Linked DNA regions of Homo sapiens: regions 2, 3, 4, 5, 6 and 7 are each reported to be linked to region 1. Evidence: microRNA targets listed by miRTarBase, many of them from high-throughput screens and not tested one by one. Region 1 holds a microRNA gene; each other region holds the end of a gene's coding sequence. Distances are from middle to middle.
What was found. The annotated mature microRNA hsa-miR-1324 reads CCAGACAGAAUUCUAUGCACUUUC and lies in region 1 at 2,810-2,833, shown strand. An mRNA with a match to its seed (bases 2 to 7 or 8) in the 3' UTR can be bound and repressed. Matches are read on the target gene's strand: a 7mer-m8 pairs with bases 2 to 8, a 7mer-A1 pairs with bases 2 to 7 and ends in A, and an 8mer does both.

Region 1 (4,544 bases):
AAATCTTGTCTCTACCAAAAATACAAAAATTAGATGGGCATGATGGCGTGTGCCTGTAGTCCCAGGTAATCAGGAGGCTGAGGAGGGAGGATCATTTGCACCCAGGAGGTAGAGGTTGCAGTGAGCTGAGATTGCACCTTTGCACTCCAGTCTGGGTGAAAGAGCCAGACCCTGTCTCAAAAAAAATTTTTTTAAAGGAAAACTATAGCCATTGTGGGTTATCAGATTCTAGTCTTGTTTCTTGTTTCTTGACTATTTTTACCTCTTTGCGAACTGGATCCTGCCATCTGATGAATTTTGTCCCACAATGATACTTGGGGAACAAGAAGCCAAGTATTGTCTCTCCTACTAATGCATCTATTGTCAGTTAATTTTAAGGTCTCCAACCCTGGAACAAAGTTAGAAAAGGAAGGTTCTGCTCCCCAAAATGCATAACCAAATTGTGGTACATTCATGTAATGGAATACTATTTAGCCATACAAAGGAACAAGCTATCAACTCACACAAAGACATGAGTGAATCTTACATGCACATTGCTAAGTGGAAGAAGACAGTCTGAGGAGGATACACACAGTGTGACCTCATTTAATGAGACACTGGAGAAGGCAAACTACACAGATGGGAAGCCATTGGCTCCATGGGGTGGGGGTTTGAAGCATTCCATATGATACTTTAATAGTGGGATATCTGCCACAATGCATTTTTCAAAATATGCAGAATTTTACAGGCAAATGGTTAAAGCAAACTCTATTCAAATTAAATAAAATTACTCAGGATGTGGAGTATCCCAGGACAGAATACATCATGTGAAAAAGAATTTATGCTACAAATTACTATGGTTTGGATGTGGTTTGTCCCCGCAAAAGCTCATGTTGAAATTTAACCCCCACTGTGTCAGTGTGGGGTGGTGGGGCCTAGTGGACAGTGTTTGGGTCGTGGGGACGGATCCTTCATGAATAGATTAATGTCCTCCATGGGGGTGAGTGAGTTCTGTTCTCACAGGAATAGATAATTCCTGCAGGACTAGGTAATTAAAAAGAGTCTGGCTTCCTTGGCTTCCCTCTTGCTTTCACTTTTGCTATGTGATCTCTGGTGCACCCCTTGCTCCCCTTCCACTTTCCACCATGAGGTGAAAAAGACTGAGGCCCCACCAGATGCAACTGCCCAATCTCAGACATCCCAGCCACCAGTATTGTGAGCCAAATGAACCTTTTTTACTTATAAATTATGCAGCCTCAGGTATTCTGTTACAGAAGCACAAAATGGACTAAGACACAAATGTAGGTAAAAACTCACTGAAGGTGTAGGGAAAATGGTGTTGACCTAAGTAACTTTGAAAATGAATAGAATCTGTAGGCTGATGGCAAATGAACTATACTTCATCATTGGATTCCATTTTATAAAGTTCTTTCCAACAGAAGCAATTGTGAACAATTGTAAAACCACGGTGTCTGTATCTGGAATAAAACAATGACTTACATAAGTCACAGATGGTGGGAACCAGGTTTCTCACTGTTGAAGTGGGAGGTTACAAATTAGCAAGGCGAGAAGGCTAGAATGATTCATGTGATAGTAGATCAGAGGTGGAGACATCAATGTAAACTTATGTTTAGTTTAATATAGATACACACAGTTCTACATAGAAAACTTTATAATTAGGTGTGTATAGGTAGGTTAGACACACACATATACTTCCTAGCATTGCCAATGAGGGACAAGATACAATGTGCTCATTCAGCAGCCAGATGCAAGTTTTCCTACCATTCTGAAAGGAATCAGGCTCTTTGAAGAAATGTCTGATACTAGAACTGGGACAGTAAATATAGGAGCCAGGATAATATAGGTCCAGGGGGGGCCATCGTGTCTCCAGAACCAGAACTGGAAGGTCCAACTTCCAGGGGGAGAAAGGAAGAGTGTCCTTAGTGAAGTGGAGGGCCTCACAGCAAGATGCCTGGCTTAATCAAACTTGGACATACCTGAAGCACGTTCAGTGACTAAAAGTGCCTACCATGAGCAGCTGGAACCCACTCCCTGAGAGCTTCAAGAAGCATGGGTACCTCTTGTACCTGTTTGTAATTACAGCCAAGGACCAGCAGGCAGCATTACTGCATCCACATGGGGCTTTTACTGGAACCAGTAAGTCTCTGCCAGCCCCTCACAGGCTCCTGGGATGCCACTCGTTCTGGGTCTGTGGACAGACAACCAGGACACTTGCTCAGTGCCCACCCACTCCTTGTGGCCCACAGCCCATCACTCAACCCCAGCCCCACCATCCCCTGCTTCCTAAGCCGTTCCTCATGCCAGAAGAAAAGGCAATGCCTTTGTCCCACAGCCTCTGCCTTGTGTCATGTCATGTGGGGGTATGGAATGAACCGGCCAGCCTAAACTCCAGTGCTTCTGCCTGAAGAATCTGTCCCCACTGTCTGAGTCGCCCTCTAGGGAGCTGTCAGTGGGGGAGAGAGCAGCCCTGGAAGAGAGGCCCACCTGCTTCTGTCTGACTTCAGGGCAGCCTCTCAGGGCAAGAACCCAGAGCAGATGGAGGCCTCACAGAAGCCTGTGGCAGGGCTCTGGGCTTGGTGGCTGAACATCTCCCTCTCTGCTGCCAGCCATGGGGCCCAGAACCACCCATTCAAGAGGGTCACCACCACATTGCAGGTGTGCAGCTGGACGGCTCCCCAGGCAGAGCCTGCCATGGACTCCATGCACACAGAGGATGCACACCTTGAGGCTGGACTATGAGGAGAACATTCCTGAAGAGGTGCATGAAGCCTGGTCCTGCCCTCACTGGGAACCCCCTTCCCTCTGGGTACCAGACAGAATTCTATGCACTTTCCTGGAGGCTCCATGCTGGTCTGTTCATTTGGAAGTTTGAGGCTGTCCATGAGGAAGTAACAAAAGAGATATCTCAGAGCAGGTTGTGGGGCACAGGCTGAGCCCTTGCCTAGTCCCTCCCTAGTCCCTTTGCAGAGCCAGGGCTGGAACAAGGACCTGTGGATAATGAGGGAACTGCTCTGCAATAACCGGCCTGAGCAGCTGCTTCAAGAAACAGCCACAATCAAGGCACCTATAGCCCCTGGTGAGTGACTGGCAGCCTCAGGCCCACCTGCCATCTGTGAGCAGGTTTTCTTGCTAACAGGATGAAAGCAAAGAAAGCTGGAATAAGCCCAGCCCTCTCAGGCACCTTGAAGTCTGTTGGGGTTCCTTGCAAAGCCTTCTAGCCTTCTGCTTCTTGGCAGCCCACCCAAGCACCTTTTTCTAGCCTCTAAGACTTTGATGCTCTGGAAGGAGAGGGCCCTACTTTCCACTAGGCTATGGGGCCAGGCCCATCCAGCTCCCTATTTCTACTAACAACCACAGGGCTCTCACCTGGGCACACACTGCCCAACCATAGCCCTTCTAAGGCAGAAGATCATTTGTCTTGCAGTTTCAGCTTGCTAGGGCTTAAAAGTTATCAGTGCTGTTATTAAGATAGAGAAGTGAGATCATCAGCACAGGTGACAGCACAGGCCGGGCTGCTGGGGAGGCTGAGGGAGAGTGTCCAGCCTATTCTGCCAGCTGGGCCTTCCCAGGGGTGTCTCGTGACCCAGTCCCTTAGAGAAGCATGAAGACATCTCAGCAAGGAGCTGGAAGGTGCAGATCAGGGCAGCCCAGCACCACTGATGGTAGAGGGGGGCTACCTCCAATCAAGCTGTGTCTCCACAGCTGACCCGTGGAGCCAGGAGGTGATTTACAACTTCTGCAAGGCAGTCAGCTCCGTCAGCTGTATGCCCTTCAACATTCACTTCAACTCAAACATCCCACCAGAAAGCAGTGGGGACTGGCGAATGCAGCAGCCCTGCAAAGTGGAACAGAGCATCCTGGGGTGGGGGATCTGGGGTCTGCCTGCTCATCTGAGCACTGCTCCCTGGGGGTGTGCTCTGCAGGCTCCCTGAAGGAGGGCTGGGAGCTCATCAGGGAGACCCTGAGCCTGTGGAACATGCCTGAGGCCATGTCCATGGGGATTTGTGCCTACTTGCACCTCCTTGCTCATCTCACTATGCTATTGGTGACTGTGCTGAGGTGGGTTTCGAGCATCCCCTGGGCTGTGTCAGCACAGGGCTCTGGGCCTGGCCTGGCATTGAGGGATGGCAAATAAGGGGCCTGGGTTTGCATTGTCACCTCCTATGATTCCAGAAAATAAGGAAGTCCAGACCTGCAGTACTGGAACCCTATCAAAGGGGTTAGGAGGCCGCTCACTTTCCCTCAGGGCCGCATGTGGAGGAGCTGAGGGAGGTTAAGGAGACCCTGGGGACTCACTTGTTCTGTCTGGGCTTCCCCCAGCTCCACCCTTTGATAACCATTTTCTGGGAAGAGCTCAGGAACCTCTTGTGCTCTAGTGAGGTGGGGCCTTCCCTCACAGGGTATTGGTGAGGAGGCATTCTGAGACTCTGTGAGTGAGAAGCTAACACAGTGCCTGAGAATACTCATGGGAGCTGTCATCCTCTGTGACCATCACGTGACCTCGTAGTGTTCAGACTGCCTGGCCTGGCCTTGGGCTTGGTAAG
Region 2 (4,544 bases), 17 Mb from region 1:
AGGCGTGGGAGTACAGGAAGCCCAGCATCATCTTCATCCATCTGCAACCAGCTGGCCGGGACCGACACACAAAAATGAACCAAGCACCCTAATGGGACTAAGCCGGTCTGTTCTTAGTCCTCACACTTGGGAAACTGGGTTTTAGGCAGGTAGCATCTAGAATCTCTTTTTTAATTCCTGAGAGTCAGCCACAATGATTCCAACAGCAGATTTTGCCATTTACGTTTTTTTCTTTCATAATCCAAACCTGAGCATTTTAGACACAATCCTAAGTGATTTTATTCTTCTTACATACTTATTACTAGTATATATATATTTTAGAGATAGGGTCTCGCTCTGTCACCTAGGCTGGAGTGCAGTGGCACAATCTCGGCTCACTGCAGCCTCGACCTCCTGGGCTCAAGCGATCCTCCCGCCTCTGCCTCCTGAGTAGCTGGGACCACAGGCATGTGCCACCACATCCAGCTAATTTTTTTATGTTTTCTAGAGACAGGGTCTCCCATGTTGCCCAGGCTGGTCTTGAACTCCTGGCCTCAAGTGACCCTCCTTCCTTACCCTCCCAAAGTGCTGGGATGATAGGTGTGAGCCACTGCACCCCACCCCTTATTATTAGTATTAATTAATATTATGTGGTGGTTCTGCCACTTACCAGCCAGTGACTACGGGCAGTGACCCTCTGTGCCTCAGCTTCCCCATCTGTAGAATGGGATGTAAACAGTGCACACTCCCTAGGGCCACTGTGCAGATTAAATACATAAGGCCCTGCAGAACACCACGTGGCATACAGCAAGCGCTCAAGACATGGTCGGAGTCTTCTTTTTATTGTTGCTATCATTATTGTTATTTGAGGTATCCTAGAGGGACACAGAGAATTTGTGGGGAGGGGCCAGATCTCTCCAACAACTGGTTACCCTTCAGGGCGTGAGAGCAGTTAACTGGGCTCTGATCCCATCTCTGAGATCTTGAGCAAGTTGCATCCCCTCTCTGAGCCTCAGTTTCCCCATCTGTGAAGTGGGTTAATAACATCCCACACCCCCATTTAGGTTTAGAGCACAGTGTCCATGTGGGCATGAGTTCTGAACAGCCTCACTCACTGCCTATATTTCTCTGTCTTCTCTCTCTCTAGTTCTTAAAGAACAGCCCAGACACAAACAAATACGAGGGATGGCCAGAGCTGCTGGAGATGGAGGGCTGCATGCCCCCGAAGCCATTTTAGGGTGGCTGTGGCTCTTCCTCAGCCAGGGGCCTGAAGAAGCTCCTGCCTGACTTAGGAGTCAGAGCCCGGCAGGGGCTGAGGAGGAGGAGCAGGGGGTGCTGCGTGGAAGGTGCTGCAGGTCCTTGCACGCTGTGTCGCGCCTCTCCTCCTCGGAAACAGAACCCTCCCACAGCACATCCTACCCGGAAGACCAGCCTCAGAGGGTCCTTCTGGAACCAGCTGTCTGTGGAGAGAATGGGGTGCTTTCGTCAGGGACTGCTGACGGCTGGTCCTGAGGAAGGACAAACTGCCCAGACTTGAGCCCAATTAAATTTTATTTTTGCTGGTTTTGAATGAGCTTTCTGACCACTCCAGTGGCCACGTTTCTCCCTGGGATTGAACTGCTCCAGACTCAGCATGGGCCATGGGTTCAGACAGGTCTGTGACAGCTTCAGGCTCCCCCTTAGGCAGCTGGGAGGGAGCTGTGTTTCTAGGATTTCCCATGGGCCTGAGAGAATCCTCAGTTCCTGCATAACATGTGGGATGGACAGGAACAGAGGGAGCTAGGGACAGGATGCAAGAAATACTGTCATCACCCTCTGTCTGAAGGAGAGCTGGAGCAAGTCCAGAGCAGGAGTGGGAGAGGAGGGGCACATCTGAACCTGGCTGGAAGGAGCCGCCAGGCTGTGCTGCAGGCTTCAGGGAAGGCAGCCGGGCTGTCTCCGCCCCAGGAGCGGACCCTGAGACAAGGACTCAAGGGCAGCCAGTATATTTGGGAGGTGATTGTGGGAAACACCAATAGAGAAGTAGGGAAGTGAGATGGCAAAGGGAAGGAGGGGAAGGCAGCCAGTGAAGGGTATGGTTTCAACCCAGCTACCCCTGTGGGGACTGGAGCTGACTCCCACCCGAAGCTCTAGGAATCGGGGTAGAACATGCACCTTGGAGATACTCCACCCGGGAGTGAGGGAGCTGGGGTATTTACACACCGACTCCCACTAGTGGTTTGTTGAGGGCTTCTGGTGTTGGGGATGATATGAATTCCTAGGTGCTTCTTGTCTGCCCTGCCTAGGGAAGAGTGGCCCTCTGTGGCTTCACAGCAAGCCCCCAGCCAAGAGATGGCAATGCCAGCTGCAATGGCAGGAGCACATTGAAATGGGAAGGCCCAAGGATACGGTGTCAAGACCTGCCTGAGGTTTCTGAGAAGGGCCCAGTTCCCAGGCTCTAGACTAAGTCTTGAAAGGAGGTCGTGGGGGCAGAAAGCATTGCTACTCAGCCTCCTGGAGCATGTGCTGGGGACACTACACCTCATGGAGAAGAAACCCTCTGCCCAAGCACAGATGCCCACCAGTGGTCTGAGACTCACAGCTCCCAAGTCCTGGGGCCAGGGAGCACTTCAAATGTGCCAAGATAGCCTGGGGTAGAGACAATAGTGTGTGTGAACCTTCCACCAGGGGCCACGGCAGGTGGGACACGGGCTACAATTGCAGTGATATCAAAATCAAGGTCCAGGCCAGGTGCGGTGGCTCACGCCTATAACCCCAGCACTTTGGGAGGCCGAGGTGGGCGGATCAACTGAGGCAAGGAGTTTAAGACCAGCCTGGCCGACATATAAAAGTTAGCCAGGTATGGTGGCACTGACCTGTAATCCCAGCTACTTGGGAGGCTGAGGCAGGAGAATCGCTTGAACCTGGGAGGCGGGGATTGCAGTGAGCCGAGATTGCACCACTGCACTCCAGCCTGGGTGACAGAGCGAGACTCCATCTAAAAAAAAAAAAAAAAAATTCAAAGAGCCGGCGGGGAGCCGTGCTCAGGGTTGGCTGAGGAAGTCAGAAGGTGCCCATCCAGACATCCTGTCAATTCTGTCACTCCCTGCCCAACCCACCCCAGCTCACCCTCACGGATGAAAGCGGGAGCATGCTGGCAGGCCTGAATAACCACTTCCAACCACATCAGTAGACTACCTGGAAAAACATCTGCCCAGAAACCTGCTCTGGGAATGAAGGTGGCATGAAATTTTCATGATGACCATAAACACCTTTGAGAGCTCGGAAATTTCACTTTACAACAAGCAGGAGTACCTTGTAAAATTTTTAAAGAACATATAAAGACCTCTAAAATGAGCTCATGAGCAGGGACCAGGGCTAGGCAGAGGGCTCTTGGCAGTGGCCACTATTTTAAGACATGGGGTAGCTGCCTCATTGAAGAGAAGACACATGGACTTTTCCAGAAACTGCACTGCACAACACTTCAAAGAAGACTGAGAACATGTCAACTGGCTCAATCAGAGAATTCAGGGAAGCGTCCCAGGTGCCCTTTCCCAGATTTTGTTACTAATGGTCAGTCTGAACTCTTCTTTGGAGAATTGCCCTTGGGCTACTCATACATTCTTTGAGCACAAGTGCAAAGAAGACAGACCAGGAAGCTGGGGGTGTGTACACCACCCCAGGATGGTCCTTAGCTAATGACTGGCAGGTATGGGAACGTGAAAGGCCAGCTCTTTATTTTGGGGCATGATGACGACCACGAGGTGCAATTTACACTCCAGGATTCCCAGAGGGATCAGGCGGGAACTGGGACTTTGCCTGAAAGTGTCCCTTTGCTTACCTCTTTCCCCTTTCCCATCCTGCTCCTCCACTCCCTTACCAGTGTCCCCAGGGGCCAGTCCTTAACAAATCACCTACACGACAATCCCTATCCCGAAGTGGGATCCTGGGGTACCCATCCTAAGAGAGGTGGTGGGCATGGCCAGCTGGATGGGACTGAGCCTGAGCCTGGGCTGGGAGATAAGACCTCCAGGTCTGCAGGAATTGTTGTCATAAAAGGGATCAGTTCTCAAGGAGAAAGAGCTCAGAGTGGGGGAGCTGCACTTGCCACTGCCATGTGGAGCCCATGGAAGAGGCAACGTGCTGTTCCACACCAGGGAACACAAGGCAAAGATTAGGGATCATGCCCCACTCCAGCTTCCCACTCCTTCCTCAGATGCCCAGAATAAGTCAGAAGATAAGCCCAAGTAGCCATCATTGTACCCCCATAACCCATCAAGGAGACTGCATTCTCGAGCCAGCCACACTAGGCCCCTCTTGGGTGGGTGTTACAAAAGTGGCAAACACCTGTCAGACTCTCAACGTCATTTTCAGGACATTGTGGCCACTATAGGGACCCCCAGGTCAGCTCAAGCTGTAAAGAGTTGGGTCTTTATCGCCAAGATTTTCATCACTCAGCAAACCTGATATGCATCAAGAGTCCGGCAGGCTTGGGGATGCTGCAGTGAAGAAAACCCAGCACCGTTCCCACTCAGTCTAGCAGGGGATACAAATCCAGAGGCGACATGGCTTGGCAAGGGGAAAGA
Region 3 (3,000 bases), not on the chromosome of region 1:
TGACCCTACTCTCCATCTTCGTTAGAGTGATGGAGTCCCTAGAGGGCTTACTAGAGAGCCCATCGCCTGGGACCTCCTGGACCACCAGAAGCCAACTAGCCAACACAGAGCCCACCAAGGGCCTTCCAGACCATCCATCCAGAAGCATGTGATAAGACCTCCTTCCATACTGGCCATATTTTGGAACACTGACCTAGACATGTCCAGATGGGAGTCCCATTCCTAGCAGACAAGCTGAGCACCGTTGTAACCAGAGAACTATTACTAGGCCTTGAAGAACCTGTCTAACTGGATGCTCATTGCCTGGGCAAGGCCTGTTTAGGCCGGTTGCGGTGGCTCATGCCTGTAATCCTAGCACTTTGGGAGGCTGAGGTGGGTGGATCACCTGAGGTCAGGAGTTCGAGACCAGCCTCGCCAACATGGCGAAACCCCATCTCTACTAAAAATACAAAAGTTAGCTGGGTGTGGTGGCAGAGGCCTGTAATCCCAGCTCCTTGGGAGGCTGAGGCGGGAGAATTGCTTGAACCCGGGGACGGAGGTTGCAGTGAGCCGAGATCGCACTGCTGTACCCAGCCTGGGCCACAGTGCAAGACTCCATCTCAAAAAAAAAAGAAAAGAAAAAGCCTGTTTAATGCACAGGTGTGAGTGGATTGCTTATGGCTATGAGATAGGTTGATCTCGCCCTTACCCCGGGGTCTGGTGTATGCTGTGCTTTCCTCAGCAGTATGGCTCTGACATCTCTTAGATGTCCCAACTTCAGCTGTTGGGAGATGGTGATATTTTCAACCCTACTTCCTAAACATCTGTCTGGGGTTCCTTTAGTCTTGAATGTCTTATGCTCAATTATTTGGTGTTGAGCCTCTCTTCCACAAGAGCTCCTCCATGTTTGGATAGCAGTTGAAGAGGTTGTGTGGGTGGGCTGTTGGGAGTGAGGATGGAGTGTTCAGTGCCCATTTCTCATTTTACATTTTAAAGTCGTTCCTCCAACATAGTGTGTATTGGTCTGAAGGGGGTGGTGGGATGCCAAAGCCTGCTCAAGTTATGGACATTGTGGCCACCATGTGGCTTAAATGATTTTTTCTAACTAATAAAGTGGAATATATATTTCTACTGTGTGTCATGTTGACTTCTGCTCTTGAAATTCGTGGTAGGGAGGGTCTTAATTTCTAGACCTGAGGTTTAATTTTAACATCTCAATACTTTGGAGCAGGAAAGTGCTTAAATCACTTTGTTTAAAACATAGTATCAGTAGACTTCTGAATTTGGGGGCAGAGGCAGTTGGGTCTGCCATGTATCAACCAGTTATGTGAGCCTAGGCCACGATTATTGCAGGCCTGTCATGACTAGATCTGTAAAGAAGAAGAAAAATGATCACCACTTCCAGCCCCTCTCCTTGAGTCTCTGGGGCAAAGAGGACTATCAGTCCAGGAGGCTGTGGGCTTTTTCTTTTGTACTCTTCAGCGTGTTTTACTTACCCACCAAAAAGGCTGCTTAATTCAGATTGTTCTCAAAGTCAGTTGGTAAAGTGTCCACACCACACAGATGATTATATCTGCTCTCCCAGATCTAAGCAACTTGGCCTTTACTCAAAAGTTGGAGGGGTTTTTTTTTCTTGTATCCATCACTCTTGTACTTCCTGTCCCACGTACAATTGTATTCACTCCTTTGCCCTTCAGAATATATTTATTTACACTCCCATCTGGGCGTGTGCATCATTTTATTAACTTGACTGACTTTTGCTAAAGCGCAACAATGAAGTACAGTGTCTTCTGTTAAGCCAGTTTTGCTTCCTGAGTGTTCTTAAAATGTCACTACCCTAGAAGCCTGTGGGTTAAGCATCACTTTCATTTATTGCACAGTGGTTGTCACTAGTGTTATTTATCAAGTATTTCCAGTTTCCCACCTTTCGGGTACATGGTAAATTGGTCCCCTTGTGGCTGGCAGGGTTTATATGACTGTTACTTTGTTAGCATAGTACTACTCTCAAAAGTCTATTTGGCTTTTTCTCTGGTTTCAGTTTCATGTGCCAGTAGTTACCCTCTTCTAGTCATATTTCTTATATTTGATATATTTTCTCATTCTCATGCTTCTAATTTGGGGTATTTTTGAACCTTCAATTGGAGAGCCTGCACCTTAAGTCTCTCCTCCAAGTGGCTTAGTTTAATTGAAGTGATCTGTGTGCCACCACCCCCTTGTGGTTGGATGGAGCCATGTCATTAGTTCTGGCCAATGAGCTGTGAGTGGTAGTGGCTTGCGTTAATTCTACGTGAGAGCATTTCAGTGCTGGAGAAACCTGCGAGGACCTCTTTTTCCCTCTGTGCAGTGACCAGCAGTGCTTCCTATGGAACTGTTCATTAGTGTAGGTCCTGGAATGAGGATGCATGGCGCAGGGCCCTTAATCTGTCCAATCTGACTGTGATGTGGGAGAGACTTCTAGACATGTTGCTTTCTCTAGGGTATGTTCTTATATTTCCCATTACCCCCCACCCCCTGCAAAAGGACTGGGCCTGTTTTGGGAAGGTGACTGATACCCGCACTGTAGCACAGGAATTGTGCTACTGATATCTGGGGGTTTTGTTAACTGAAGTGTAACTTAGCTTATCCTGATTGGTACATTGTGTACAGCACCTATTGGATGCCAGGCATCAGCTAATACCTCATCGCTACCTGCCTCAGATGTACACAAGGTATTGGGAGGAAGGCATGTGAACAAATAATGTGTCATGGTTTTGTGATAGAAATACGTATACAGGATAGTGGGTATATAAAGTTATTTGTAGGCAGGAGAGGGGTGTTCAGGAAAAGCTTCTTAGAGGATCTCAATTTTTTAAAAATGCGTAGGTTGTAGGCTGCTGGCCAACTTAGGAAAAGGTGTCTCAGCGGAGGGAACAACGGGAGCAAAGGCATGGAGATGAGCCTATGCACAGCTCATTTAGAAAACTGCAAGTTCAGGCCAGGTGCAGTGCCTCACGCCTGTAATCCCAGCACTTTGGGAGGCCG
Region 4 (4,544 bases), not on the chromosome of region 1:
CCAGTGGTAATAAATGCGGATCTCTTATTGCAAGAGAATAGTTTTAAAAATTCCTTTAAAAGGCAGTCAGTACTTTTAGTTAATGCTGTCTCTTACTGAGGTGTCCAACTCTACTTGTTTTTGTCCTGTAAATACAGCATTAGTTTTGACAGTGGCTAGCTAGCTACCCCCTCCAAATATATTTCAAAAGAATCAAGTATTTCCCACAAAATAATCACTGTATGTGCCTTTTCTGGGTGTACAATGTGCCACAGTAATACCCCAAAGAAGTAACTGGGAAGGTGAGAGGCAAGGAAGCACAGGTATTAATTTAGGGAATGAAACACTACCTGAGACAAAATTTGCCCAAAAGGGTAGGGGTTAAGTGACATGAACCCTCACCTCTTTACCCTTTCTCTCAAAAAGAAAATTTCTAGGTCTTTCAATAACTTCAATAAACCAAAATCCCTATGTATATATTTCATCCTAATCATGAAACTTGTATCTTTTGATATTTGGTTCAGGTTTAAGAAAGATAATATCACAGGAGGGAGGGGTAATCTGCTAATGTGATCTTTGGTAGAACGGGCTAAGAGCTATAAAATAATTTCAATCACAGGAGGCATTTCTTTTTCAATTCTCTGGCTTTAATATAAAACATCTAGCCAGGTGTGGTGGCAAGCGCCTGTAAACCCAGCTACTGGGGAGGCTGAGACAGGAGAATCGCTCAAACCTGCGAGGCAGAGGTTGCAGTGAGCCGAGATTGAGCCACTGCACTCCAGCCTGGGCAACAGAGCAAGACATCATCTCAAAACAACAACAACAACAACAAAAAATCTAATTAAATGCATGGTTAATTCAAGGCTCATCAATTATTCCCTCAGCTCCCTTAAAATCTAGTAACCATCTTCTGTAACAAAATTCTACAGTGTCAAGCACTAAATATATGTATGAATGTATCAGCAATAAGATGACAATCAAAGAATGCTGTGAAGATTGGCATCAAGATGTTAGCAGCATACTGCAGGACTAGGCTTAGAAGCCTACCTGCAGTTTATTTGTAAGGATTTTTCTTTTGGGGGCGGAGGGGAGAGAAAAGTAAATGTGCTAACTTAGGATACTTGCCCTTATAAAGAATTCCTTTGTATCCCATGTTCATCGTATTTAAGGACCTGATGTTTCTAATCACCACAAAATCTGCTACCCATATGAACATTTAGGAAAGTTTAGGTCTTCACAATACGGGTTCTGCCCACTTGAATTCTGACTTGAAAACAAACCAATTTATAATCAACTCCTGAAAGGGCCAAAATAAAAAATAATAGTTCTTCCTTCTAAGGGCATGTATTGGGGAACATGCCACAAGACCCTTTGGTAATTCATAAATCAGCCTCCTTATGCCAAATTTGGTTTCATAATAAACATTAAAGGAGAGTCCTGAATTTGACAATTATAAATAACTAAAATGTCAAACAATAATTGTTTGAATGGGGTAAAGTATTTCATTCTGTAAAATGCAAATTCTAACTGGACTCTCAGCAACCTGCATGGCAAACATAAGGAAATATGAGGAGGCTTCCAGCAGGGAAAGATAGAAGACTTTTTCCTTAGGAAAAAATAAATAAATAAAAAAATTAATAACCTGTATATAACTTGTCTTTTTTTTTTGGTATAATCAGTGCTTCATAAAGGCATCCTAATTTTTATATCTTTAAAGACAACCTACCATGAAATAAGAAGAATCCATAATTATAATTCTAAAAACCATGTAATCAACTTGTGTCCATGAACTCACGCATAGCAGCATCCTCTACTCAGGGACACATTATGTTGCTATGAATCCTTTTAAGAATTCTTTGAGTTTTTCTTCCTTTCTACTTCTACCTCATTATATCTACACCTTTCTTAACTACCTTGCAGTCAAAAGCCAAACTACCTGGGATGCTGCTCCTCTAGTTTGTCTTCAGCTAAGGATAGAGGCAAAGAATGAGGGAAGGGGAGGAAAAAGGGAGCAGGGATACGAGAAACAGAAAGGAAGAAAAAAGAATCCTTTTATTTTCCACCCTCTCTTCGCCCATTTTTTTTCTTTTCCCTTCACTGTACATCTAATTCTTTTGACCCACTTCAATTTTCATCATAGTAGGTAGAGCCACATCTTGAGAAACCTTAAAACTATAGATTTACTACAAAAAAGATGAGCTAATACAAAGTCTAAAGTAAACTAAAAGAGGGGTTGATTTACATCTGGCACAACTTAGTCTTTGTTCCAATCATTTTAGAAGTCTCAATTTAACTCCAGGCTAGACTCCAGTTTGTTCTGGGCCTCTCAGGAATTATGTTTTGTCATTTACATTGTATCAGACAGACTACCTCTCAAAAAATGTATATCTTAAATCTTACGGATGTGAAACAGGTAGGGAAGAAATAAGTATAGACTGTATTAGCTCACAGGATTCACACTATAAAGTACACTGACTCAAATTTTCTCTAATCATTCATACTCGCACATTCACTCAAGCATACATACTAGACATAAAAATTGTGCAAGATCAAGCATCAGCTTTCTATTTTAAAAGCCTTAATTTAAAAAAACTTAGATAGGCTCACTGCAGTTCCTTTAAAGGAATATTCAGTACTACAGTACTGCTTTAAGAAAAAATTCACAACTCAGTGTTAAGAACACAGTAGGTAACTGCTGCTTGACAATTACTTAACATTACTGAGAGCATCCAGTGCCAGCTTATGGATATCAACAATAAGGAAGAACCACTGGACAACATAAAGAAATAATCTGTAAATGATGTCACCAAACCTAACAAATTTGTTAGTATTTACCAAGACATGATATTATTCATCCTTGCTTCATGATCCATGAAATAATTAAGATTTTTTTAGGCTACATACTGAAGAGCAACACCTGCTCTCCCGCACAAAAAAGGGTTGCCCACATGGATGCTCTAAAACCCCTCAATGTATAGCTGAGAGGTCTTGTCCTACTCAGTGCCAAATGTATGCAACGCAGTCACTGCTTGGGCAATGGCTGCACATTAGTAGGATTAAATAAATGTATAAAGTACCTTCTTAAAATGGTAAGGGGGTAGTCCTGCATTCATATGTGGAATAACCCAAGAAATGGAAGAGGAGAAAAAGGAAACAGTCCTTAGGTTACTGATTAAAGCAAGGTTTGATACAGATATCCCCTCTTGTAGGCACTCAGCGGGTAGAATGTAGCCACAACAAACTTCCCATCAAACATCCTTCCAGTCAGTAATTTCTGCGCAGCTTTGGAATCACCAGCATTTGCATACTCAACAAAGACCTGAAAGAAGACAGAGAAAAAAACATTTCATTTCCACCAAGATTGTTTTAGACCAGTGCTTTACCACCTTTAATATATATACATCAACTGGAGATGTTATTAAAATGCAGATTTTGCTTCCTTAGGTCTGAGATGTCGCCTGAGTTTCTGTTCTAAACAAACTTCCAGGTGATGCCAATGCTGCTGGTCTATGAACTATACTTCAGGACAGCAAGGTTTAGAATACTTCCTCACAACTCAGCTCAACTTTGAAAAATCTCTCAAGGACAAGTTGTGTGAATCATGTACAATCTTTTGCTAAGGTCGTTACAGGAGTGATGAATAACACTAGACATCTGCCAAAGATACGGCTGAATAGCTCAGACAGCAACTGCATTTCAATGGTACCTGGATGATAATCTGTACTTTTAGCAGTGAAAAAGGAAAAAATATTGGTCAAAAGCTGCTGGAAATTGCACCTATTAGGAAGTACAATTTGGCTGGGTGCAGGGGCTCACTCCTGTAATCTGAGCACTTTGGGAGGCCAAGGCAGGTGGATCACGAGGTCGGGAATTCGAGATCAGCCTGACGAACACGGTGAAACCGTGTCTCTACTAAAAATACAAAAATTAGCTGGGCAAGGTGGCACACACCTGTAATCCCAGCTACCCAGGAGGCTGAGGCAGGAGAATCACTTGAACCCGGGAGGCGAAGGTTGCAGGGAGCTGAGATTGCGCCACTGTACTCCAGCCCGGGCAACAACAGAGCAAGACTCCATCTCAAAAACAAACAAACAAAATCTAACTGGGCGTGATAGCACATGCCTGTAATCCCAGCTACTTGGGAGGCAGAGTTGGGAGGATCACTTGAGCTCAGGAAGTCGAGGCTGCAATGAGCCAAGATCACGACACTGTATGTGCTCCAGCCTGGGTGACAGAGCAAGACCCTGTCCCCTCCCTGACCCCACCCCAAAAAGGAATAATGAATCTATTCCTGATTTTTTTTTTACCTGATTCTTAATTATGCCCAAACCTATAGAGCAAAGTTCGATAAATGAGTAGACATGCATTTATAGAAGGAATATCATGTTTTCTATCATACTCCTTGCTTCAGATAGGCTATACTTTTCTATACTACACCATCCCACACTAAGAAAGGCATCTTATTTTTATAAATTATGAAATTAATAGGGCTGTATCATTTTAATTCTGATTATTTTTATAATTGCATTATCAGATGCATTCATTATTTTTCAGTGTTTTTTGTA
Region 5 (4,544 bases), not on the chromosome of region 1:
GGCGTCTGTAAGCAGTTCTCACGCTCACAGGGCCATGGCTTCATCACCCCCGAGAACGGGTCCGAGGACATCTTCGTACATGTGTCTGAGTGAGTCCCCTCCACCTCCCTGTTCTTGGCCCCTGCCCTAGTGTCCCCAATGGTGCCTCAAAAATGGCTCTCCAGGCCTCTCCTCTCACTGGCTGAGGTCTGTATTCATGGTGCCTTTTCTGTCCTCTGAGTAGGGGCTGAGGGTGCGTTGGGAGAGGAGGGCTGGGGCCAGGGAGGGAGTGGGCACGCAGACCCCAGAAGCCTGGGAGCCAGCGGCTGGGCCCTGGATCCTGTTACAGCATCGTGGAGGTCTGAGAGGGCTAGGCCAGCTCCTGAGCCTCTTGGCCTGGAAAGGGCCTTCATGTGGGTGGGCCAGGAGGTAGAGATGGATATCATGTCTAGGCCTGGCCCCACCCACTTCTAATGCCAGGAGGACCGGGGGAGGTCACTGAGCTTCTCAGAGCTTTAGGGACCTCCCCGTGCCCTTTCACATCTCGGTCCCCAAGGGACCCAGAAAGGGAGGTACAGTTTATGAGTCCCATTTTATTTTATTTTATTTATTTTTTGAGAGGGAGTCTCGCTCTGTCGCCCAGGCTGGAGTGCAATGGCACAATCTCGGCTCAGTGCAACCTCCACTTCCTGGGTTCAAGCGATTCTCCCACCTCAGCCTCCCAAGTAGCTGGAATTACAGGTGCCAGCCACCATGCCTGGCTAATTTTTGTACTTTTAGTAGAGCCAGGGTTTCGCCATGTTGGCCAGGTTGGTGTCAAACTCCTGACTCAGGTGATCCGCCCGCCTCAGACTCCCAAAGTGCTGGGATTACAGGCGTGAGCCACTGTGCCCAGCCATGAGTCCCGTTTTACAGATTCGAGAGCTGAGGTTCTGAGAAGCAAGGCCTGGCCAGGCCTCCTGGCCTAGGGAGGCTTAGGGCCAGGCTGCCCCCAAGGCCAGGCCACAGGATTGTCTGGGGCACAGGGCCTGCTGCTGGGCTAATACCCCTCTTCCTGCCCGCCAGCATCGAGGGGGAGTACGTGCCAGTGGAGGGCGACGAGGTGACCTACAAGATGTGCCCTATCCCTCCCAAGAACCAGAAGTTCCAGGCCGTGGAGGTGGTGCTCACTCAGCTGGCCCCCCACACTCCCCACGAGACGTGGTCTGGCCAGGTCGTGGGCTCCTAGGCTGAGTGGTTCACAGGCCAGCTGGCCGGGGGTTGGGGAGCCACACAGGGTGAACGGGCAGCAGCCGGCTCCATGCCCCACTGCCCTGGCTGATGAGTCCTTCGGTGGCCTCAGTGTGCACGTCTGTCTGTCCGTCTGTGCTTGTGGCTATGAGCGTGTGCCTCCACCCACCCCACGACCCGTGACTACTGTGCAAGCTGGCCAGGAGGTAGGTGGAGGGCAAGGCCACCAGACCTGGCTTCGCGCTGTCCACTGCCTCTCTCCTCCCCTCCCTGCCGCAGACACGCAGGACCCGCTCGCCCTCCTGCTTACCCGTCCCCACGGTGACTGAGCTGCGAGAGCCTGCGCTGGGCTCACTCCCTGGCCTCCGCCCCTGAGCTGTCCCGTGTCAGTCCCTGGCCCGGAGCCAGGCTCTCTGTGCTACTTACATCTCCCTCCCTTGGCTGAGGTCCCCCGCCACAGCCTGGACCCTTCCCTCAGAAGCCTGGCCGATGGGTGCTTTTGGGGAGCCTCTCAGCCTCTGGCAGGGGAGGAGGACTGACACGGAGGCACACAGGCCTCTCACTGCCGAGGCCAGCCTTCCTTCCTGCTCTGCTCTCTCAGTGCCATGGAGAGGCAGGAAGAGGGGCCTGAGGGCGGAAGGGGTTTGGGGCTCCCATTTCGCCGGCCAGTCCCTCCTCCTCAGCCTGGCAGTGGCGCTGGGCTCCTTCCCCTGGGCTGTACTGAGCCGAGCCCAGGGGTTTGCAGAGGGTGGGGGTCCATCTCTCCAGCTTGGCTGCAGACCTCCTTTACCCTGACTCACAAGCCCCACTGATGCTCTGGGCCATGCCCGGCTGACGGCTGCTGTGGATGCCGCGAGGGACGGACACACGTCCGGGGCACCCACGAGGAGGGCCCCCAGCCTGGGAGACTGGCCCTGCGGCCTCCACGTCAAACTCTCTTCCCAAAGCCCTAACAGACCAGTGGCCGAGGTGTGGCTCTTATTGCATCCATCCCTGAAGATGTGTGGCTGTTGCTGTCACCTGGAGTCCTTTTGGGGCCAAGATGTGTGTGCACCCGGGGTCGTGGCCATTCACTCCCAGGCAGGGGTGAGGGTGGCCTGGCCCAGGAGGCCAGGAAGGAGGGCCCTGTCTGCCTCCACCTCTGGGTGCACCCCCTGCCTACCACCCTCCCTTCTAGAGAGCACATCGCCTGACCGGGGAGAAGTGGGGCCGTGGTTCGAGGGAGGGCTGGCCAGGGGTGGGACCCTTATGAGACTCAGTCTGTGAGTAAAACTGGGGGCTCAAATGCCCAGGATGAGGGGATCAGTGACTGTCTAGGAGGATCCCTTGCCTTGTAGGTGCCCCAAGACCGCAGGGTAGAAATCAGCCGGGATGCCTGCATCCCACCCCCGGCCCCAGGGCCCACCACATAAAATCTGGGAGCCCAGAGCTGCTGAGGTGTGGTCAGCTCCCCTAAAATGGGCACGGCCCAGCCTGTCCCATGAGGAATAAAGGCCCCTGGCCCCCTTGAGAGAGGGCTTGTTGGTGAGGGCTGACTCCTGGGGGCCCCCAAGGCTCCCCTCCTGTGGGGAGGCCACCTTTTAAGGCACCACTAGCAGTCAGGATATGGTGGCATCAGCCCTGGGGCCTCCTGGGTGGCAGGGGGGCAGCAGCTCTCCTCCCCACTCACAGGCCCTGCAGTGCTCATTTGGAATTCCTCCCAAGACCCCTGGCCACCCAGACCCCCCATTCTTCCTAACACTGGCAATAAACCCTCAACTGTGACCCACCGTGGCCTGAAGCTGCCTCTGTGTCAGGGTCCCCAAGGAAGGGGCTGGGGGTGGACACACCAAACCAGCTCTTCTTTGGGGATTCAATGGCCCCCTCCTCGACTGCATCAGACTTCCTTTGTGACCTGGGCCAAGTCCCTGCCCTCTCTGTGCTGTTTACTTGTCGGCAAAGTAGTGGCTGTGACAGCATGTGACTGGGGCCAATTATCCATTCAGACACAGCTGACACCTACTTTGTTCTGGGAACTTTAATACTGTGACAAAGTTCTCTAAAATAGGCACCTTCCCCACCGTACCTCATCGCCCAGGGCAGGCAGGCAGGGCAGGCTAGATCTCGTACCGATACTTGAGCACGCCTCCTCCTGGTGCAGAAAGAAACCTCTTCTGTACCGAAATACAAGCAGCAGCTGTGGCCTGGGCCACCAGGTGGAGCATGGGGAACACTCTGGGCCCTGGGAGGACGAAGCCAGTGCCACTAGGAGCAGACTGGCTGGGGACGGTTGTCCACACAGACTCTGGCCCCATCTGGGTGGGCTTGCAGCAGGCGTCCTGGGCCAGAGGAGGGGCCCTGGCATCTATCCAACACCAGGACCTCTCTTTAGGCCTAGGCCAAACTCTTCAGAAGTCACGACACACAGATGTGGGCCCCGGTCACGCCTCATGAGCTGTCTCTGGGAAGAAAATCTCCCGGCATCGCTGCACCGTGTCCTGAGGAGACACCACGCTGTGGCCAACAGTCCGGGGGTCGGCAAAGATCTCAAAGTCGTTCCCACCCTGCACACAGAGGATGGGCAGAGGAGGGATATTTAGGTGGAGTCCCTCTCCACATTGGCTGCTACGGACCTGCCCCTCCTCCTGCCCCTTCAGAACTGCCAGGAAGCCCACCTTCTCACCCCTTGTCAGACCTGCCCTGACTTGCTGTGTGATGTAGAACAAGTGCCCAGCCTCTTGGGGCCCCAGCTTTCCAATCTGTGTAACGGGGCTGGTGAGCAATGGTTGTTCTCCAGGAGCCCCCTAAGAGGTCTGTTGTGTTGCCCCATGTTCTGGCCTTGACCTCAGGTGATTTGCATTGGAGAAGCCACCAGACCTGGCTTCTCACTGTCCACTGCGTTAGGGGAAACCTGGGGTGGGCCACACTCACAGGGCTAGTCTCGTTCCCAAAGAAGTGGATGGTGTCGAAGCTGTCCTGGTCCAGGCTATCCAGGCAGTAGCGCTTGTCCCAGCCCTCGGGGAAGACGTCAAAGCTGATCATGCCTCCTGTGGGCAGGGGTGGGGACTGTTATTCCCTGCTGGGAGGGGCAGACAAGGCTAACAGAAGGGCTGCTTGTTCATTCATTCATTCAACAACCCTTGAGTGCCTACTGAGGGCCAGGAATAGGACACGGGACAGACTTAGGATCCTCAAGGAAGTTATGACACAGGTTGGAGAATGAACAAGACCATGAAGTGGGTGGGGGAAGCTCATCCGGCCAGGGTGATCAGGGGAGACCTCTGAGGAGGTGGCAATGAGCTGGGACCTGAGCCGAGTGGGGATGGCTGGGGCGCAAAGTACAGCCCCTGAGGCAG
Region 6 (3,000 bases), not on the chromosome of region 1:
TGGGAGGCGGAAGTATGCTGGGGACAGAGGTGGGGTCTGAGAGCCAAAGGATCCACCCCACAGATGCTGCCCTCCTCCTCCTCTTCCTCCTGCCTCCCTGGAGGCAGCAGCTCACCCATGGGTGTGCCCTGAGGCTTTCTCTTGGTGTCTGTCCCATCCAGAGTCCGAGTGCCGGGGGGACCCTGTCCGGGACTTTCACCAGGTCCAGAGGGGCTATGCCATCTGCCAGACCACGCGCCCCCTGTCATGGGTGGAGTGCCGGGGCTCGTGCCCAGGCCAGGGCTGCTGCCAGGGCCTTCGGCTGAAGCGGAGGAAGTTCACCTTTGAGTGCAGCGATGGGACCTCTTTTGCCGAGGAGGTGGAAAAGCCCACCAAGTGTGGCTGTGCCCTCTGCGCATAGCGCTGGGCGTGGACAGGCCGGTGAGGGCGGGCAAGGGGCCCCAGCCGCTGCAGCAGCGGAGACAGTCGCCAGCAGCTGGGCTGGGGTGCAGGTCATCACAGGACGGCTCCTGGGCAGCTGGGCCCTCCTGGGTGGGGTGGTGCCAGAGCAGCCTTTTAAAAGCAAATTGCGCCATAGCTGGGGGCAGCGGGGGTGGGCGAGGCCTGAGCTGCGGGCTGCCCTCTCCGGAAGTGCCTTGCACAAATAGGCGCTTAATAAATATTTGTTGAGTGAATGTGTGCGTGAGGTCAGGCCAAGAAGTGCAGAACGATGACACCCCTCCTTACCTGCTATCTGAATCTGGAGAAGAAAAATGACAGCCTTCCAAACCAACCCTTCCCTTTGGCCTGTGGCCCAGGCTGGCTTGGAACTGGGTCTGTGGCCCCAGAAGCCTCTTACCCCTCTGCGGGCAACCATGAAGTACTGTCAGCCTCCCCGGGAAGCCAGCCTGGTTCATTCTGCTGCTACAGAATCTGCTGGTGGTAGGCCAGGCTCTGGAGCGGGGGTGCCGCCTCCTGCTGGCCAGGGAGGGTCGGACCCTTGCCCCCTGGGCTGACTGGCAGCTCTGCAGCCACGGCTTGGGAACGAGGCTGTGGGTGGAGGTGGTTCTTAGGACCAGGCCTCTGAATCCTAAAGTTCTAGCATGACTACTGTAGCTGCGAGGGCTTATGTGGAGGAAACAGTCACAGGGGCTGCTCAGGGTGGCAGACCCCACTAAAGAGGGCAGAGGGTTCTTTGCTCTAGATAAACAAACATCATCTGCCTCCAGACACTGGCCACAGTAGGAGTATTGGTCCTGGGCTTCCCCAGCCACCAGTCAGCCACAAGCTGTCGGTGACCTATTGGTAGAGGGACTGGGTGTGAGGGTCTGGGCCAGGGTGCTTGACCTGGGAGCAGCTGGTTCAGAGTCCTTCACACCGCAGGCCAGTAGGGAGCAGTGGAAGGGACAGTGCTCCAGGCATTGGGAAGTCCCTGCTGGCTCTATCACTCGGGGCAAACTTCTCCCCACCTGGGCCTTGGGTTCTTCAGCTATAAAATGGCCAGAGGTGGGGGGCGGGATGACTAAAGGAACAGTGCAGACTCCCCCACTGTGGTCTTGGGAGGCCAGAGGAGTTAGAAGACCTATCTATCTATCTATCTATCTACATTGATCACATCAAAAGTATTTATGTGCCTAACCCGGGGCTGGGGATTGTGGACGTTCTGGCCTAATGGACAGATGTGAACTCATCCCAGAGCATCGCAGGAATGACCAGGATGCCCGGGAAGAGTTGAGCTGAGTGGGGGCTCCAGCCACAGACAGCGGCCCAGGCCAGGGAGTTGCTGGCAACGAAGGAGCCAGTGGTGGAAGAAGAAGAGGCCCTGAATATACGATTGCCTGCCCACGTTGTCTTCTCTTCCATACACAGTGAAAATGTAGAAAGATGGTTTGTGAGGCCAAACTGTGAATGGGCTAAAGGGAGGCAAAGTTGCACTCTCCTTCCCCAGAGGGCTCACCAAGAGGGCACACCCCCGGGGGTTCTGGTGGGCAACGGGGGTGAGCATGTCCCTGCCCTGGCTCCCTCCATCTGTGACCAGGAGGCATGGCTGGGTGTATGTTCAGGTGAGGCTCAGAGTGGCATTGTGTCCCTGTCCCCTGCCCAGGGCAGTGAGGGGAGCCCTTGATGCTGATTAGAAGGCTAGAACTGGGGTAGAGGTGCCTGGCATGTCTCATGCCATGGGGACTCAATCTAGCAACTGTGAGTCCTGGGGTCCCTGTGATGGGAAGAGGGCAGTGCCCTGCCCAATGTGGCAGGTGTCCTCATGGCAGGATCTGCCCCTCACCAGGGGGCTGGGATCTACTTGCTTGGAGCTCTGAGCAAGGCCACAATGCCCGCCCCCACCCCCAAGTAGACTGCAGCCTGGGCCTCATGGGGCTTCTCCCAGGCCCACATGGCATCCCTCTCTGAGTTTCCAGGCCACCGTGGGACCCTGCAGAGCATCTGCACCGGGCTGGATAGGGCAGAAAAGCTCAAGGGCAGCTAGCTTGCCTCTTCCCTGGAAGAAAGGTGCTCTGGGACTCACCAACCCTGAGAAAGATAGCTTTCCTGGCCACCACCATTCCCCACCACCCTGGAGAAGCCAATTCCCAGGCTTGAAGGGCACTGGCTGGCAGGAGGCCTCTTCATTCTGCAGGAGGTGGAAAGGACACCTGTAGACAGGTGATGCTCACCCCTCACCTGGCGCCATGGGGCTGGGAGGTGAGCGGCTGGCATGTTTGTTCCTAGGGAGCACCATGTGAGCTTAAGGCTCCCCTGACCGGCCCCACCACATGGCCCAGCCTCCTAGCACAGCAGCGCTGACCTCAGTGCAGTCTGAGGATTGGAATCCACCATGAGATGATGTGAGAGCTGTGTGCCCCAGGATCAACTTTTTCTCCAACTTGGCCATCAGCCAGCGAGTTGCTAAGGACCTGAGTCAGCACTCACGTTGCCTATTCACACTCCGCTTGAAAGTCCGGAAGGTGGCTACTGCAAAATCACCCCTCTGAGAAGTCCTCTCTCCACATCTTGTCCCCCTTT
Region 7 (4,544 bases), not on the chromosome of region 1:
GAGGAGGGTGTAAAGTAAAGAAGGATGGCTGGGCCTGAGACAACTTCAAGGAGTGAGGGTGGCAAAAGATGAGGCCAGAGAGATAGGTGGGTGCTGGATTAGGGAATGAACTAGAAGCTACATAAAGGATTGGGGGCTTTATGCAAAGGTCTCTGAGAAGCCATGGAATCATTTTAAGCACGGGCGTAACATGATCAGGTCTGTGTTTTAAAAAGATCACTCTGGCGGGGCGTGGTGGCTCACGCCTGTAATCCCAGCACTTTGGGAGGCCGAGGCGGGCGGATCACGAGGTCAGGAGATCGAGACCATCCTGGCTAACACGGTGAAACCTCGTCTCTACTAAAAATACAAAAAATTAGCCGGGCGTGGTGGCAGGCGCCTGTAGTACCAGCTACTTGGGAGGCTGAGGCAGGAGAATGGCATGAACCCAGGAGGCGGAGCTTGCAATGAGCCGAGACTGCACCACTGCAGTCCAGCTTGGGCCACAGAGCAAGACTCCATCTCAAAAAAAAAAAAAAAAAAAGATCACTCTGACTGTTGCTCAAGGAAGGCTCATGGGGTAGCAGTGGAAGCAGGGGGCACATTTTGGAGGCTGATCAGATGAGGATGGCTTGAGTTGGGGAAGCACCAGTGAAGATGGAGAAGCTGGAGGTGTTTGTGATCTATTTCCCAGGGGTGTTGCAGACAGGACCTGTTGATGGGTTATGTGAAGGGTGGGTGGTCAGGGAAGGAAGGCATCTTTGAGCAGAGACCTGGGGGCGTTGAGGGAGTGAACCATGTGGGTATGATGTGTGGGGCAAATGTTTTCAAGGGGAGGGCACAGCAAGTGTGAAAAAGAAAGAGGGGATGTGTTAGTCCATTTTCGGCTGCTATGAAGGAATACCTGAGGCTGGGGAATTAATAAAGAAAACAGGTTTATTTGGTTCATGGTTATACAGGCTGTCCAAGAAACATGGCACCAGCATCTGCTTTTGGTGAGGGCTTCGGGCTACTTCCATTCATGGTGGAGGGGGAAGGAGAGTGTATTAGTCCGTTTTCATGCTGCTGATAAAGACATACCTAAGACTGGGTAATTTATAAAGAAAAAAACGTTTAGTGGACTCACAGTTCCATGTGGCTGGGGAGGCCTCACAATCAGGGTGGAAGGTGAAAGCCACGTCTTACATGGTGGCAGACAAGAGAGAATGAGAGCCAAATGAAAAGGGAAACCCTTTATAAAACCATCAGCTCTCGTGAGACGTATTCACTATCATGAGAACAGTATGGGGGAAACCACCCCCATGATTCAATTATCTCCCACCAGGGTCCTCTCATATTATGGGAGCTACAATTCAAGATGAGATTTGGGTAGGGACACAGCCAAACCATATTAGAGAGCCAGCATTTCACATGAGAGGGAGCAAAAGAGAGGGGAAGTGTTCTATGCCCTTTTAAACAATCAACTGTCCTGTGAATTAATAGAGGTGGGACTGAGAGCCTGAATAGAGGGGGTTTAAAGAGACTAGGTTGGAACAAGATGCCAGCCAGAAGCTAAGGGGACAGTGTCCAGGCTGAGGAGCAGGGCTGGCAATCCAAGCAGGGTCTCTGAACCACAGCCAAGAGATCTGGGGAGCAGAGCAGAGCTTCAGACCCCAGGAGGAGAATCTGAAGTACAAAAAAGACAACTTAGAAAGAAGGAAAAGTCTAGAACATGAACCTGGAGAGCCAGATGGGGAGGAAGGCTACAGCTGGAGTGAACTCTGGTGCCAGGCTCAGGGCAGCAAGACTGATGGCAGATGCTTCCGTTGGTGGGGAGAGGACTTAGCTTACATTGTTAGGCTCAGACGGGCTGACCATGACAGGAGGGGAATGAAACCAGCCATGCAGGTCTTCCGTGCTCACAGCTGACCAGAGCGGTGGTTCTCGACCCTGACTGTACATTTCAAAAATCTGGGAAGCTTTTCAAAAAATACAGTGTTCTGCCCCCAGCCTCAAAGCATCCCTATTCATTTTTCTCCAATGGAGCTGGCCCCATTTTCAAACATCTTCCCAGATGACTGTGTTGTGCAGGCAGCGCTGAGAACTGCTGTTCTCCACTTCAGCTTATTCCTGTGTTTGGGACTGAGCCAGTGTGGGAGGCACCTTGAGATAACGGGAGCTATAGAGATAGTCAGCCCTGGCATCTGAGGGCAATGACTGCTGTAAGCACTGAAGGAATTTGTTGACTTTCCCCAGAAGAGCAATCCTCATAACACTGACCAAAATGAACATCCTGATTAATTATGCAGGTTTATAGCTCCCCAGAGGCTGCAGAAAAACATCATTTGGCACCAGAAACAAACTTTATTCTGGCAATGCAGGATAATTTTACAAACATTAGATACTGAATTGTGCATATATCTCTGGAATTTCAATGTACTACATCCATAGAATGCAGAAAAACAAGGTCAGGGCCAATTTCTCACGCTGCCACCTGGACCAAGCAGTTCCAGGAATCCTCTGGGTTCTCTCAGCCCTCTTGTTCCAGATTTCAGTGGTGTCCTGGGCAGATGTGGTTTTTGTCTGGATTTCTCTCTTTGGGGAAATGCTTCTAACCCATTATATGCAGTTTGGATGGGCTGTCAGTGACAACAGGTAACCCCACCTCTGTCTGTGGGGATGTGGTCCAGGACTAGCCAGTCCTGGCAACAGTGATTGGCTCAAGAGGTAGACATGGAATTCAAAAGAGGCCCATAAGCATTGTTTTTTAGGTTTAATATATGGATAATGGCAAAGTTCTCTCCTGAAGATATAAAGCTGGAAAATGAGTCTGGGTTTATCATTTGTCATTGTCCACACACTGTGTGGGTAAATGAAGAAGATTGCTAGAGAGAGAGGAAAACCTAGGGATGAGAGAGAGGAAGACAGAGGGGAGACTGAGAGAGAGAGAGAGAGAGAGGGGCAGAGAGAGGCAGAGAGACAGAGAAGAGAGAGAAGCAGAGAGGGGGAGACAGACAGAGAGAGAGAAGAGAGACAGAAACTGAGACAGAAAGGAGACAGGCCAGGCGTGGTGGCTCACGCCTGTAATCTCAGCATTTGGGAGGCTGAGGCCGGTGGATCACTTGAGACCAGGAGTTCGTGACCAGCCTGGCCAACATAGTGAAACCCTGTCTTTACTAAAACGCAAAAATTAGCTGGACTTGGTGGCACATGCCTATAATCCCAGCTACTCAGGAGGCTGAGGCGTGAGAATCGCTTGAACCTGGGAGGTGGGGGTTTCAGTGAGCTGAGATAGCACCACTGCACTCCAGCCTGGGCTACAGAGTGAAACTCCATCTCAAAAAAAAGAAAAAGAGAGAGAGAGAGAGAGAGAGAGAGAGAGACAGACAGAGATAGGGGAGAGAAAGAAAGAAGGGGGAAAGACAGAGACAGATGGAGGTGGGGGAGAGAGATAAGGAGAGAGGCAGAGAAGGAGAGAGAGAGTTCTGGCAATGCAATGCCTAGTTCCAGGCCTCCCGACTCTGGTACCTCAGTCTTGTGAGCTCTCCCTGCAGCCTTTAAGGGTTAAGCCCTTTGGAGCTGGGTTTGTGTCCCTGGCGACAGAAGGCATTTTGACTAGGGCAGAAGGTTTCTTGTCGACCTCATGGGAGGCCAGACGTGCGGGGTATGCACTGGAGAGTGAGGCAGGCATGGTCAAAGAGCTTGTGCGGCAGCTGTCCCTGGGATGTCCAGGTGTCCGTCTCGGGGTCGTAGCAATCGAAGGAGGCGGAGTCCTCAATGTTGCAGTCCGTGGTCAGCCGCCGCCCGCCCGTCACGTAGAGTTTGTTTCCCATCACTGTGGCCCCATGGTGCATCCTCCGGTCTTTCATGTCCGCACATTTGACAAATTTGTTGGATTGAGGGTCATAAGCAAGAATCCTCCTTGTGTAACCTGAAAACCAAATGACACATGGGCAAGCTCAGTGTTGCTCATCTGGGACTGGAGGTCAGCAGTCCTGGGACGCGTCTGACTCCTGCCACTGCGTAAGGCTGAGGCTGGGGCTCTGAACTAGCACGTGGGATGTTGAGCTAACCTGCCAAGGCCTGCTTTGTGGCAGAGTGGGGGCTGGCACGCAAATCTGCCTGACTCTGACCTTCACCCCAAGTTAAGGCAGCATATAAGCCATTCTTAGATTGGGAGCGGCCTCCTGATTCCTGTAACTTTCTCAGCCTCATTGGCCTCTTCCTCTCTCAAATGCCCACTCAAGAACTATGACAATCCTTTGGAAACTCAGAAGTGGGTTCCCCACACCAGTCCTATCTGGTAGTTACTTTTAGGATCCTCGTTTTATGGATGGACAAACTGAGGCACAGAAAGATGTTTAACTTGCTAAAAAGTATATAGCCAGTTAGTGACAGAGCCAGGATTTGAGCCCAGTTCCATCTGACCCCAATACCAGTCCTCTTAACCATGACACTATGATTTGATTACAGAGAAACAAACTATTAGTAGCTAATATTATAAGCAGAAGCAAACATGTTTTATTTACCGTGTATCTGGGATAGTGCTAAGTGCTTTAGATACACGAGTACATTAATTATCACGA

Region 2: the mRNA of FAM3D is a reported target of hsa-miR-1324. Seed matches in the 3' UTR shown: 7mer-m8 at 1,436-1,442.
Region 3: miRTarBase lists HILPDA as a target of hsa-miR-1324. Seed matches in the 3' UTR shown: 7mer-m8 at 804-810.
Region 4: the mRNA of UHMK1 is a reported target of hsa-miR-1324. Seed matches in the 3' UTR shown: 8mer at 2,337-2,344.
Region 5: miRTarBase lists CSDC2 as a target of hsa-miR-1324. Seed matches in the 3' UTR shown: 7mer-m8 at 1,331-1,337 and 7mer-m8 at 2,335-2,341.
Region 6: miRTarBase lists SLIT1 as a target of hsa-miR-1324. The part of its 3' UTR that is shown has no 7-base or 8-base seed match.
Region 7: the mRNA of KLHL38 is a reported target of hsa-miR-1324. Seed matches in the 3' UTR shown: 7mer-m8 at 3,342-3,348 and 7mer-m8 at 2,970-2,976.

The regions. Positions count from the first base shown.
Region 1 is chr3:75,628,014-75,632,557 of GRCh38, forward strand. It overlaps MIR1324 (microRNA 1324), which reads left to right and starts at 2,750; the gene lies at 2,750-2,845. It also overlaps the pseudogene CLUHP10.
Region 2 is chr3:58,630,951-58,635,494 of GRCh38, reverse strand. It overlaps FAM3D (FAM3 metabolism regulating signaling molecule D), which reads left to right. Exons shown (of 10, transcript NM_138805.3): 10 at 1,127-1,549. The coding sequence ends at 1,216. It overlaps FAM3D-AS1 (FAM3D antisense RNA 1), which reads right to left. Exons shown (of 4, transcript NR_134853.1): 3 at 2,835-2,956; 4 at 1,055-1,439. Among named protein-coding and RNA genes, the nearest start is that of FAM3D-AS1, 26 kb to the right of the region's middle.
Region 3 is chr7:128,457,309-128,460,308 of GRCh38, forward strand. HILPDA (hypoxia inducible lipid droplet associated) reads left to right here. Exons shown (of 2, transcript NM_013332.4): 2 at 1-1,110. The coding sequence ends at 152. It also overlaps the pseudogene EFCAB3P1. Among named protein-coding and RNA genes, the nearest start is that of HILPDA, 2.9 kb to the left of the region's middle. RefSeq lists an enhancer at 2,067-2,361.
Region 4 is chr1:162,521,158-162,525,701 of GRCh38, reverse strand. UHMK1 (U2AF homology motif kinase 1) reads right to left here. Exons shown (of 8, transcript NM_175866.5): 8 at 1-3,298. The coding sequence ends at 3,152. Among named protein-coding and RNA genes, the nearest start is that of UHMK1, 26 kb to the right of the region's middle.
Region 5 is chr22:41,573,689-41,578,232 of GRCh38, forward strand. CSDC2 (cold shock domain containing C2) reads left to right here. Exons shown (of 4, transcript NM_014460.4): 3 at 1-89; 4 at 1,045-2,978. The coding sequence ends at 1,207. PMM1 (phosphomannomutase 1) reads right to left here. Exons shown (of 8, transcript NM_002676.3): 7 at 4,120-4,235; 8 at 3,212-3,752. The coding sequence ends at 3,630. Among named protein-coding and RNA genes, the nearest start is that of PMM1, 14 kb to the right of the region's middle.
Region 6 is chr10:96,998,512-97,001,511 of GRCh38, reverse strand. SLIT1 (slit guidance ligand 1) reads left to right here. Exons shown (of 37, transcript NM_003061.3): 37 at 162-3,000. The coding sequence ends at 400. Among named protein-coding and RNA genes, the nearest start is that of SLIT1-AS1, 100 kb to the left of the region's middle.
Region 7 is chr8:123,642,140-123,646,683 of GRCh38, forward strand. It overlaps KLHL38 (kelch like family member 38), which reads right to left. Exons shown (of 4, transcript NM_001081675.3): 4 at 2,303-3,889. The coding sequence ends at 3,600. Among named protein-coding and RNA genes, the nearest start is that of KLHL38, 9.4 kb to the right of the region's middle.